Linked DNA regions of Homo sapiens: region 1 is linked to region 2. Evidence: fine-mapped expression QTL. A gene starts in region 2. The other region holds a variant in brackets. All regions are shown on one strand. Distances are from middle to middle.

Region 1 (2,929 bases), 31 kb after region 2:
TTGGGAGTGGAAGTTAATGGAAGGGAATATAAATCTGTACCAAATGCTCTATTTTTTAAAAAAGTCTTGAGCTGGGTGTGGTGGCTCATTCCTGTAATCCCAGCACTTTGGGCGGATCCCTTGAGACCAGGAGTTGAAGACCAGCCTGGGCAACATAGCAAGACCCCATCTCTATAGGAAATTAAACAAAATGTATTAGACGTGATGACTTGTGTTTATAGGCTCAGCTACTCGAGAGGCTGAGGTGGGAGGATCTCTTCAGTCCAGGAGTCTTCAAGGCTGCAGCAAGCCATGGTGGTGCCACTGCATTGCAGCCCAGGTGACAGAGTGAGACATTGTCTGTAAAAAAAGTCTTTAACTTCATGGCTTATTAATTCTACAAACTTGGAGCAAATTTAATAATAGAATAATATTACCTCTATTTTACATGGAGAATATACATATAGTTCTACACTGAATATAGTTCTACAATGGAGTTCTAATGTAATCCTGGGGCAGAATGCTCGATAGATAAGTAAAAATCCAAAATATTATTGCAAAATTTACCCTGTCTTTGGTTTACTTCTTTACTGCTGTTCTACATTTTTAATTTTTAGGACTACTTTTATACTTCTCTTTTGCTTATAATACCTCTTGGGGTAGAAAAACATATAATTGTGACTTCAACAATGTTTATATATATATAATTATTATGAGCTATTTCTACAACCATTGTTAATATACATCTGTCATTATCTCTGAGTCACTGAGTTAACTAGCTACATAATTTATTTCCCATTATAGTTAGCTAAAATATATTACCTAGATATATTTTCAGAGTATATTCAGTAATGAGACTAGAAATTAGAAATGATTTGTTCTGGAAGCTCATCTATTAAAGGGCATTCTGGCCTTTAACTAAATCTTACACATCTTTCTCTTCCCATTTTCTGCAATGGACATAGCTCCCAAAAAGGGAGAAAATATTCTTTCATGTATTTAACTACAGAATATACCTGAGTGTGAATTCTAACTTTACTGTTTATTAGCTCTATGAACCATTCATATTTTTTACACTCAATTATACTATCAGCAAATAGAAGATAATAATAGATTAACAATAGCTAATAATGTTTTGAGACAATCAAGTGAGAGTGTATGAAAAGCACTTATCTGAGTTCCTGGCACTTAGACATTAAATAATTACTTCCCTCCCTTATGTATGAAAGGTGACTGCCCAAATGATGCTTGGAGCGCCTCTGCCCTCTGGCTTAGCAGCTGAGTGATAAGATAATCGACCATAGATTTCTTAGGAATGACCTTATCCCTCCTTCCGAGATGATTAGAAAACATTGAATTTTCTGCTGATTTGTGTGAAGCCACATGGTAAGACATTGCTAATTATGATTTTTACCCACGCAGGTCAGAAGTTACGTCAAGAGAGCTCTTGCTGAAGGTGCCCAAATTTGGTGCGGTGAGGGAGTGGATAAGTTGAGCCTCCCTGCCAGGAACCAGGCAGGCTACTTTATGCTTCCCACGGTGATAACAGACATTAAGGATGAATCCTGCTGCATGACGGAAGAGATATTTGGTCCAGTGACGTGTGTCGTCCCCTTTGATAGTGAAGAGGAGGTGATTGAAAGAGCCAACAACGTTAAGTATGGGCTGG[C/G]GGCTACCGTGTGGTCCAGCAATGTGGGGCGCGTCCACCGGGTGGCTAAGAAGCTGCAGTCTGGCTTGGTCTGGACCAACTGCTGGCTCATCAGGGAGCTGAACCTTCCTTTCGGGGGGATGAAGAGTTCTGGAATAGGTAGAGAGGGAGCCAAGGACTCTTACGACTTCTTCACTGAGATCAAAACCATCACCGTTAAACACTGATCTTTGCTAATGGTGGAGCCACTATGGCCAATGCCTGGCTGCAGGCATCAGTTGTTCAATGTGGTAGATGAAAATCATGGCATGAATTCCAGCTATGCCTTGACTTGGCAGAAGGTTATCTCTAGCTTATCCTCAGTTCTTAGTAACTTTACCCACTAGTGAAGAGATACTGTCTATTTTCAATGTGGACTCGGAAAAAAAGACTTATAAGTAGGAAGATAGAACAATGATGCCAGTTGTCAGGCTCCTCCCAGGTTATGTTTTCATAGTGTTTCTTTCATCATCTTCATTGAACTCTTGGGAATCTCCAGATAATCAGATTATTTCATTTGGTAAATTTTAAAAAATATGCAATCAGGCACAGTGCCTCATGCCTATAATCCCAGCACTTTGGGAGGCCAAGGTGGGTGGATCACTTGAGTTCAGGAGTTCGAGATCAGCCTAGGCAACATGGTGAAATCCTGTCTTTACCAAAAGTTTAAAAATTAGCTTGGTGTGGTGCCCTCTGCCTATAGCCCCAGCTACTTGGGAGGCTGAGGTGGGAGGATCGCTTGAGCCCAGGCGGTTGAGGCTGCAGTGAGCCATGATCATTCCACTGCATTTCAGCCTGGGGGATACAGTGAGACCTTGTCTTTAAAAAAAAAATGCTGCAAAACCAAAAATAAATAGCCATAATTTGCCATCTTTGGAGAGATTATGGAGATAATCTCCTTGTCTATTAGCCACTAGCATGGCTAATTGATCATTGATTGGACCTCATTACATAAGGGGGCTGTGGACGTCTTTGGAATTTGTTAGGGGAAGGCTATGTGGTAAGCTCTACTAAATGTATCTGTACAAGGATGAAGAAAAACAAAATAACTACTACTTTTGGAGGAAACTTGGAACAAGAAGAGTACATAGTTTGATCCATTCCTACGGTCGAGTCTAATCAATTCCATTTCTTAGTGTATGCATCTAATGAGGCTTACAACTTGCTAACCCCAAAAGAAGCAATAAATGTTAAGCAATTTTAGTAACCAGTATGGCATGTATCTTATTTTTGAATGCATTCCTCCTTATCCCCATCCTCTTA
Region 2 (2,929 bases):
AAGTAATATAGGCTTGCCATAAAATATCCAAGCAGTTTAAAACGGCTTCCTGTCAACCATGTAAATAGCCAAAGAAACTATGCTGTATATATTATTCACTAGTTTTATTTTTTCACTTAACAATGCATCCTTCTAATGTCTAAGTAGTATTCCCTGTTAAGAATATAACAATTATACTCTAATATTCTCCAATTGATGGACTTTAGGTTGTTTTGATTTTTAAATTATGATAAAAAAGGATGTCCTGTGACTTATGTACTTGTTCATGAGCACGTAATTCTGTAGGAGAGATTCCTAGAAGAGAAATTGACCAGACCCTGACAAATTGCCCCAAGCAGTGTTCTGTGAACCCTCCCGCCTATGGACTAGGGATGATTCTCCACATCCTCACAGAGTAGATGTTCTCAATCTTTAAAAATGCTCTCCAGTATGATTGGCAAATCAGGCCACCTCTGTATTTCACATTCCTTGCTTAACAACAAGGCTGAACATTGTTAATATATTCATTAGCCAATTGTGTTCCTTTTCCTATGGATTGCTTTTTTGTATCTTTGCTTATCTTTTCTGTTGGGGTGCTCATTTCTCTTACCAATTTGTAGAAATTCTCAGCTACATCAGGGATCTGAAGCCCTTGCTATATGTGTCACACATGTTTTTGGCTTGTCTTTATCTCCATGGCACATCTAGGAAGATGTGAGCAGCCACTGTGGCCCCGGTTTTGGGATGGAGAGACAGCTCTTCCAAGAGAGGGCAGCCAAGGTAAAGAAACACAGATGAGCCACGGAAAGAGGGCATCTGTCTTCAGTTACCTCTGCAGGGTAAGCAGTGATGCATTGAGGAAAAAGTATATGATTTGGAGATTAAAGGGCTACAGTTCATCCCCTGCTAACTATGTGACCTTGGAAAAATGGTCTAACCTCTCCAAGGCTCAGTTTCTTCTATAAAAGAGAGGAAGTAATGGTTACTTCATATAGGATTGTTGTGTGGAATAAACGAGTAAATTCATGTAAAGGACTTGCTTTGGGGCCTGGCATCCAATCAGTGTTTGAGCAATGAACAGTTTACGGTGTGAACCCAATAAAATCACATGCACAGATGCCTTCTGATGATTTAAAGGGCTATGAACACATAAGTAAGTAGCTGTTACTTTTACACACAATTATCCATGTCAGGTAATGTACTAGAAGTCTGTGAAACATTCAGCCACTCTCTTAGTTCTGAGTTTGGAGACTGGAATGCTCTCTGAGAGCGTCAGGTGCCCTCCCACATTCACTGATTGGTAAAGGGGAAGATGGGGGCTGGGAAGGGGGAGGCTCACTCAGGAGTCCAGACAGTGGTGGGGACAACCTGAGTGCTCAGTCGTAAAGAGGAAAGGCAGAATTTTTCCTTGCTATGGCTGGAACAAACGCACTTTTGATGCTGGAAAACTTCATAGATGGAAAATTTTTACCTTGTAGCTCATATATAGATTCTTACGACCCATCAACAGGGGAAGTGTATTGCAGAGTGCCAAATAGTGGAAAAGACGAGGTGAGTATATGCACTTAAAGAAGACTGAAATGTGTTTAATATGTTGGCCAATTATGGGTAACAGTTTTCTAAAAGCAGAGGGAGTTGGGGGAAGATGTAGGATTGTTAAACATGATAGAAGGAAGATTCTAGTTCTCAGAAGATGTACCTTGTAACTGGACTGTATGATACCTAGAACAAATCTCTTCCTATATGCAGAAAGTAAGTCATTTTTCTAGCCAACCTAACACAGCCCTGTGTGCAGTTTTTTTTTGCAATTCTCAAACATTTCCTAATCAGTGTCTAGTACAAAGTATTATTTGTAAGAGCTATCACTTTGTTAAATATTCCCTTTTCTCCACCACGCACTGCTTAAATTTACCACTATATCCATGGAATTAAAAAAAAAGTATAGCTTTACTAAAATAAACAAACAAGCAAAAAACTGTGGGCTTTGTTTTAGATTGTCTTCTCATAATTTGTCATGTCTTCAAAATACCTAGTAAAATAAAATCAATCATTTGAATGATGAAACTCAAAATCAAATTCCCATATATTTTTGGAGTTAGATTTAACAGCGTCTTTTTTCTTATCCAAAGTGTTTAATGGCATATGCATTACATTTTTTTGGTGATGTAGAATTAATTTTACTTGGAGAATTTTGTAAAATATTTGAGATATATTTGATTAGCTATCAATTATTGCACTGAGAATGTAAATATATCTGAAGTGGTAAATGTAGCTGATGTATATATAGTCATCTAATGCCTTATGAATTATAATTTATTCTTTTTAAGGCACAAATAACTAGATTATTTAAAATATAGTCTTCCTATAAAAATATATATTCCATGCAAAGTTTTTTTTTAAGAACATTGCTATTTTTTTTCTTTTTTGTTAATACTTCAAATCTGTCTTGCATTTAAAGTAAACCTTCAGACTTAGGGATTAATGTTTGCAAATGTTGGTTAATGCATTGGTTAAATTATAAACTGCAATTTTGTTTGCTTCAAATGACTTAACACAGCTCTGGGAAATCCAGCTTTGTGTTTTCCACTCTTCCTTGTTTGCCAAAGTGAAGTTAAAAATGACAAACATGCCAAATTCAGCTGAAATATTTCCTGCAGCTAATGGCTCATAACTTTTTAGAAAATAGAATGAGCTATGGATGCGCTAGCTAGTAGAGTAATAGATATGTTCAGTTTCTCAGCAATCCAACTTCCAAATATCCTATCTGATCCCATAAGTCATAGTTTTTTCCGGCTTGAAAAATATGGTTACCATACAAACTGCATGTCCAATTTCCAAAACATCACTCAGGAAAATGTTGCTGGTGCTGCTAACAGTGGCTCCCGTTTATTCAACTTTTGCTTTGTGCTTTGCAGTCATTAAGCCCTTTTTTAACAAAAAATTAAAAAAT

The links. PIP is the estimated chance that this variant, and not a neighbour inherited with it, causes the effect.
Region 1: its variant is fine-mapped to the expression of ALDH8A1 in whole blood (TOPMed, PIP above 0.99).

Annotation. Positions count from the first base shown.
Region 1 is chr6:134,917,340-134,920,268 of GRCh38, reverse strand. ALDH8A1 (aldehyde dehydrogenase 8 family member A1) reads left to right here. Exons shown (of 7, transcript NM_022568.4): 7 at 1,402-2,876. The coding sequence ends at 1,854. Among named protein-coding and RNA genes, the nearest start is that of ALDH8A1, 31 kb to the left of the region's middle. The variant C/G (reference allele first, on the strand shown) is at 1,649.
Region 2 is chr6:134,948,517-134,951,445 of GRCh38, reverse strand. ALDH8A1 (aldehyde dehydrogenase 8 family member A1) reads left to right here and starts at 1,345. Exons shown (of 7, transcript NM_022568.4): 1 at 1,345-1,530. The coding sequence starts at 1,393.